Linked DNA regions of Homo sapiens. Each later gene encodes a partner of the first gene's protein in a complex. Each region holds a gene or a part of one and is shown on either strand. Other genes may lie near its edges.

Region 1 (3,751 bases):
GGGGGGGGCAAAACAAAAACCATTGATGTTTTTTCTTTCTGTGCTGCAAAGGTATTTGTCTAAAACAGGCTTTCTCAACTTCTGTTAATTCTATTAATATTTTGGACCAGATAATCATTCGTTGGGGGGAGTTGTCCTGTGCATTGTGGGATGTATAGCAACATTACTGGCCTCCACTCACTAGTTGCCAGTTGCATTCCCTCCTCCCAACTGCAAAGATTGAAAATGTCTCCAGACATTGTCAAATGTCCCTTGGGAGGTTAAATAGCTCCTGGGTGAGAGCCACTGCTCTAAATGCTGACAAATGAAAAAGACAATTTGCTCTCTGGGGGAGTGACTGACAAATACAAAGGTGTTGGGGGCGCTCTCCAACTATAAGGCTTGTTCTAGTGCCCCACCCACCAGCCCTTAGCCAACAGAGGATGCTTTTTGTTTTGTGGTGGCACATCTACCTCTGCTCTCTGTATATTCTACAACCAGTGCTACTTCTAGATTATAAATCATTATTATTATTATTTTGAGACAAGGTCTAGTGCAGTGGCATGATCTCAGCTCACTGTAACTTCTGCCTCCCAGGCTCAAGCCATCCTCCCACCTCAACCTCCTGAGTAGCTAGGGACTACAGGCACGCACCATCATGCCCGGCTAATTTTCGTAATTTTTGTAGAGACAGGGTTTCACCATGTTGCCCAGGCTGGTCTCGAACTCGTGAGCTCAAGTGATCCGTCTGCCTTGGCCACCCAAACTGCTGGGATTACAGGCACAAGCCACCATGCCCTGGGCCTATTTTTTCAATTAAGACTAATTTTATAGTCCTGTACCCATGAAACTCCTTAAATGTGGCACCTTGCCGAGAACCCAAGCAACTGGGTTCTCCATAAATGCTTTGTGGCCACTGACTCTGATATACGAGTAAAGCACCAGGCAATTCCGTTTATTTAGCCAGCATTAACCTAGCATCTTTATGTTCTAGGAATTCTGGGGACACTTTTTTCTTTTAACTTTAAGGTTGAAGTCATGATCACCACTTTATACATGCAGTCATTGAGGCTCAGAGAAAAACTAAGTGACCTGTGCCTAAGATCACACAAGTGGCAGAGCTGGGGTGGATTCAGGACTGAGTCTGTTGCTCTTACTTGACTTTCAAGTTAACAGCGTCTCCCCTACCTTCTGAGGGCTTGCCATGGGCAAGACACCATGCTGGATGTCTAATACAGCCCATTTTAAATCCTCACTGTTATGCCATGAGGCGGGTAACATCATTCCTTTACAGACAGGGAAATAAAGGCTTAAATGAAATCCTTATCCAAGGTTGCAGAGCTGGATATCCCAAAATTTGAATTCAGATTAGCCTGAACTCTGAAGCCCATGTTCTTAGCCACTATACCCTATTGCCTCCTCTTACGTATTAATATAAATGGCCTGCTCCTTTAGGAAGGGTTAGTCAATGGGTTTTGTTTCTCTTTTGAAGTTAGTAGATGATATACTTTAATTCAAGAAGATTTGGATTTGGCCTACTCATACATTCACTTGGGGTTTCTTTTATAACATTAAAAACCCAATCCCAAGCAGGCATGGTGGTGCAGGCCTATAGTCCCAGCTACCCAAGAGGCTGAGGTGGGAGGATCACCTGAGTCAAGGAGTTCAAGGCTGCAGTGAGCTATGATCGTGCCAGTGTACCCCATCCTGGGCAACAGAGCAAGACCCTGTCTCTAAAATAAATAAATAAATAAATAAATAAATAAATAAATAAATAAATAAATAGGCCAGGTGCAGTGGCTCACACCTGTAATCCCAGCGCTTTGGGAGGTGGAGGCAGGCAGATTGCTTGAGCCCAGGAGTTGGAAACCAGCCTGGCAAACATGGCGAAACCCCATCTCTACCAAAAAAAATACAAAAATTAGCCAAGTATGGTGGTGCATGCCTGTGGTCTCAGCTACTCAGGAGGCTAAGGTGGAAGGATCACTTGAGCCTGGGAGGTACAGGTTGCAGTGAGCCAAGATCACGCCACTGTACTCCTGCCAGGGTGACAGAGCGAGACCCTGTCTCAAAAAAATAAATAAATAAATAACCCAATCCTATCAATATCTGTGGGACACCTAGAACTGTCCTATATGACAAATCTCTACTTAGTTGTCAAGAAGTGATTAAGTTAAAATTCCACAACTGCTAACATCACAGCTAATCATTTCTTCCATTTTCTCTTCTCTGGTTCATTCGCTTAGTCAATAACCGCATGGCTAAGAATCTATTCAAAGATTCTAAATGCACATCAAATAATCATACAAATCATAAAAATCATAATATAAGCACCAGGAAGAGTACAGATGAATTTGGATAATTTCTAATGGGAAGGCTGCTCAGGGGGGTAAAGGAAAGGCAAGGAATCTGAGTTCTATAGGAAGGGTTGGGAGTTAATTTTAAAATGTGGAAAGAAGAGCTTCCAGTCCCAGTGAACAGCATGTGCAAAGCCCCTCACCCCACCTCACCCCCGACTAGGTGAAAGGAAACCATGTGCCTGAACCCTCGATAAGGAGCCACAGATAGCAGTAGCCAGGCCATGCAGGGCCTTGTGGACCACAATAAAGAGAAATTAAAGGGCCTGAAGTGTGGGTATAACATGGTCAGATCTACTTTATTTTATTTATTTATTTATTTTTTTTTTTAGGGAGAATCTTGCTCTGTCACCCAGGCTGGAGTACAGCGGTGCAATCACAGCTCACTGCAACCTCTGCCACCACGCCTGGTTAATTTTTTATTTTTTGTAGAGACGAAGTCTCACTATATTGCCCAGGATGGCCTCAAATTCCTGGACTCAAGTGATCCTCCCGCCTCGGCCTCCCAAAGTGCTGGGATTACAGGTCTGAGCCACTGCGCCTGGCCTAGATCTACATTTTTAATGAACACAGAACCAAAATGACTCTGAAGCAACCTTTACCAGGACACAGTTCAAAGATCTGGATCCTGCGAAACAAGTTTGTTTGTTTCTTTTCTTTTTTCTTTTTTTTTTTTCTTTTTCTATTCTCTGGGGTGTGGCACGTCACCCTGGCTGACTTAGCTCCCTTCTTTTTTGGTTTCGTTTGTGAAGTTTAAAGGCCAGATTTATATCAGGCCTGGGACCTGTTTTTCTTTCAAAAGCCCCCCAGTGAACTACCTTATCTCTTTCTAGATCCCTCCTCATTCTCTAATCTCTCTAATCTAACTTGCCAAGGGGCCTGTGGCAAAGGTAGAGCAATCTGTCCTTTTGGGCTTGCTCATATTAAGTGCAGAAACAAGCTGAGAGAGAACCACAGATTTTGCTCTCTTACACTCCCTCGTACCCAATCAAGTCCAGTTAAATTTTTTTTTTTTTTAAAAAAAGCAAATCTGAGATAATGTCACTCTCCAGGTTAAGATTCCTGCACTCCTCAGTGCCCTCTTGGCCACGCACCCCAGCCGGTGGCCCTAGGCAACAAAGGTCTGGCTCAGTTGGCCCACCTCCAAGCTTCCACAACTGCTTTCAGTTTCTCCACTACAAGAAGCTTCACCCCACCCCACTCTGCCCTGCCAAGAGTTCTTAGCAGCCACTGACACTTCCTCCAGGAAGCCAATCCCACCCTACCAGTGCCCCAGTCTATGAACTGTCCTGCTCTGGGTCCGCAACTACTCCAAGAAAGTAGTTTTTCTGAACTTCTCTGTAATTTTGGTTCACTGCCCTCATCCCTAGGCCCCCAACACATGCATACACACACATGCACTTGTGCACACACAC
Region 2 (3,751 bases), on another chromosome or scaffold:
CTTCTTTCTTTCCTCCAGAGTTTAGTATAACAACTTTGACTCAAAGCAGTTGCTGCCTCCCCAGAGTTCATCCTATCCTCTTGTCTAGTCTTAGATTAGCTCTTCTAGGGAGGTGGAATGAGTTTGGGCTCAGAAGTGAGGCAAACCTGCTGGGTTTTAACATCTGTGTCCTGCCACTTTGCTAGCCTAAATATGATTTTTAATGTATCTCAGCTTCAGTTTTCTCACCTGTTAAAAAAAAAACAATAACTTACAGCATTGTTGTAAGCTTAATAACCTGTATATATATATATTTTTAATTATCACTAGGATGGCAATATGTCTTAGTTTGTCTAGGATAATCCCACTTTAAACCTGCGGTTCAGGCATAATTATTAATAGTACCTTCTTTCATTCAAAAAGTCTCTTGGTTTAGGTGATAAATTACGTGATCATCCCATCATAGTGCCATGCGTAGAATTGTCATGTAAATGGCACTTTTACTCATTATTATTATTAATAGCTTGGCATTAATATGCTTAGTGGACCAAGTACAATCGGGCAATAAATATTTAATGAATGCCCACTATGTTTAAAGTGCTGTTCAGCTGATCTGCAAAGCTATGGCTGTAAAAACACCGAAGGGAATTTTAAGTATAATTAAAAGGAGATTGGAGAGTTAAGAAATAGTTGATGACAATGTGCTTCTTTATGCTTTTCTAGGCTTACCTTACAAATTTGAAGTACAGCAGATGTTAGAAGAACCTCAGTGGGGATTAGTATTTGAAAAGACAAGATGGATAATAGAAAAATACAGGCTCTCCCATAGGTATGTACTGTGGTTTGAGATGGTTGCACATCTGCAGTGTTGCTCATTAAATTATGTTTCAGAGAAAACCCAAGTTAAATATAAAATTGTGATGTATGGCATCCGTGATAGTTTATTATGAAACTGATTAGTTTATAGTATTCGTTTCACCAGTTTGTTTTCATATTTCTTCCTACAGCAGCGTCCCCATGGATAAAATCTTTCGCCGGGATTCTGACCTGACTTGTTTGCAGAAAGTAAGCTGTCTTCATTTTAATTGGTTCCATTGTTCACAGATTCTGAAGCTATTCATCTCAATGTGTTTTCCCATGATGCCTAATACTTTGTGGATAATTTTCTGTATATTTCTTTTATTACTTTTTCCTTTGGAAAATTAATTTCTAGGAGATAATTAGTAACGTTTTTTGTTGCCCAAGCTTGCACATAGAAAAAATTCTATTTTAGAATAAATTTGTCAGTGTTGGCTGATTTTAGCAGATTATTATTATACACAATGGAGAACATTTTTCTTATTTTATTAAATTTGAAAGTGCCATGTTTCCATTTTAGCCTTAACAATTGGTCATTTTTAAGAATGATGGTATAAATCTAACAATTAAATTTAAATAGTCATTTTATTTAACTTTCTAATAGGAAATAAGAGTTTTGAATTCTGTCAGTTCACGTCTAGGTTTTGCTTCTGTAATGATTGAAGGCTAGTAGATCTGCAACATTTGTCTTTTTAAATAGCAATTGGGGATAGAAAATTTAAACATTAAGTTTCTTTTTAATATGTTTTACTCCTTTCTGTTATATCCAGTTTTTTGTGTGTTGTTGAAAAAGTATGTGCACATTTCCAAGGAAATAGACTCCAGCTAGCATCCTCATTTTGAAATGCAGAATCCTATGTTTTTATGTACCTAGATTTTTGTGTGTGTGTATACTCAGGATTATTTTGCTTTGTAAGTGTAACTACAAATGGAGAAAAGTCGCAAATACGTCCGAAGTAGAAAGCATCACATAAACAATCTCAGGTTTGTCTCCTTATGTAAAATCATAAAAGTACTAAGCTGAGTGTTCCTCAGCAGCAATTTCCTACATTCCAGCTCTGTGACTATTAAACACAAGTTAATCTTCAACCATTTTTAAGGAGAGTGTTTCTCATTTGAGCATTAGGAAATGTGAGGTCTGGAAAGGGACGAAATAGTGATAGTAATGCAAACCCTCATACTTTTTCTGTATTTAAATATAAAACTTTTCTTTTCAACTAGCTTTTGGAGTGTATGAGGAAGACTCTGAGCAAAGTGACCAATTGCTTTATGGCTGAAGAATTCTTGACTGAAATAGAAAATTTGTTCCTTTCCAATTATAAAAGCAACCAAGAGAATGGAGTAACCGAAGAGAACTGTACAAAGGAATTGTTAATGTGATTATTTTAAAGTTAAGACATTTTAATCTTGACACAGTAGATCTTACTTTCAAAGTTATAAACTTGAAGTGATTGTAGTTAACATTGGCACAGCTTTGGTATTTTTTCTCTATTTCACAAAATCCAAACTTTGCCACATAAATCATGTGAAAAGGAAGAGATACAAATTTGTTTTCATATAGTGATTATCAGAGTGTTCTGCAAACCAGGGTCCACCACGGTGTTCTAGTCCTTTACTGAGCAATGCTGTAGGCTGTGAAACTAAGCAACCTGGTCGGCTTTACTGTTGTGTTCAGCTTGGGATTTGGACTATGTCTCTAAGTCATTTCTTCCCTGAACTAGTCATTTATGTTCCATTGTGGTATCTCCTATTTCATTTAAAAGCACTTCCATTCTTTCCATATATTCTGCTGAGATTTGTTTATGGCTATAAATGAGATATGGATGGGTGGTCACTGAGATAATTAATATGGTTTAGAACTACTGATTAATAAATCTAACAGGAGACCAGGAGAGGCATGACAAGAAAATCTTAAAAACAGGAAAAACCCAAAGGAGAGAACTAAATTACCAGTTTCTAATCATAGATACTATCTTCCATTTCATTGTATAGCAGTAGTATCATAAGATATGCCATTTTCTCAGCTATCTGAAAATTTTTAACCAATTTTACACACATAAAATAATTAGCTTCAATTGTGAGTCCACTTACATTAGTAGGTGTGATAAAACCTCATTTAACTGGAACATAGGTAATCATAACTCAAACTTTTTTTCTACTGCCTACTACTAGGAGAAAGAGGCAAATGATAATAAAGCTGGAATAAATCAGAGATTTAATTTTTAAAACAAGCCTTTCAGGACATGTTACATATTCAGCCCAGTTTCATATGCTTTCTGAATCTATAATGGAGGTCAGTGAACTTTTTTAATGTAAAGGGCCAGTTTGTAAATAATTTTGGCTTTTCAGGCCACATATGATGTCTATGAGACATTCTTCTTTGTGTGTGTGTGTGTGTGTGTGTGTGTGTGTGTGTGTTTTACAGCCCTTTAAAATGATAAAAACCATTGTTAACTCACAGGCCTCATAAAACATAGGCTGTTGGCTATTATTCTCCAACCCTTGATCTAGAGAATTTTAAACATTAGAATTTTGTTTTACATTTGTTAAGCTTTACGTCATCTTCAAATGACACCAAAACTCAGAATTATGATCTGCATTTAAGCCAATTTTAAAATAAAATAAGCAGTCAATGCTGCCTCATTTATTGAAATTCAGTAGATTTTAGTTTATTTCTTAGTAGTCAGAGAATTGATTTATAGCTATTCACCAAACATTCTTACTAACGTTTCCTTATATCTAAATCAGATTGATTCTATATTTTGCTTTGTTTGTAATCAATAGCCAATGAAGAATAAGGAGTATTGGAAGAAGCAGTGAGTCAGCTTTAGGTGACCTGGTTCTTGTCTCAACTTTGTGATTTGGGGAGATACAGTTTACTTTCCCTGAGCCTTAATTCTTGTGTAACTGAAGT

Evidence for each region.
Region 2: KAT2B (region 1) and MYSM1 share a complex: the UniProt entries of both Homo sapiens proteins name them as parts of the large chromatin remodeling complex.

Annotation. Positions count from the first base shown.
Region 1 is NC_000003.12:20,043,331-20,047,081, reverse strand, and holds part of KAT2B (histone acetyltransferase KAT2B), read right to left. Parts: intron 1-3,751. UniProt on the Homo sapiens protein: Functions as a histone acetyltransferase (HAT) to promote transcriptional activation. Has significant histone acetyltransferase activity with core histones (H3 and H4), and also with nucleosome core particles.
Region 2 is NC_000001.11:58,658,463-58,662,213, reverse strand, and holds part of MYSM1 (deubiquitinase MYSM1), read left to right. Parts: intron 1-702; coding exon 703-808; intron 809-986; coding exon 987-1,044; intron 1,045-2,058; coding exon 2,059-2,217; 3' UTR 2,218-3,751. UniProt on the Homo sapiens protein: Metalloprotease with deubiquitinase activity that plays important regulator roles in hematopoietic stem cell function, blood cell production and immune response.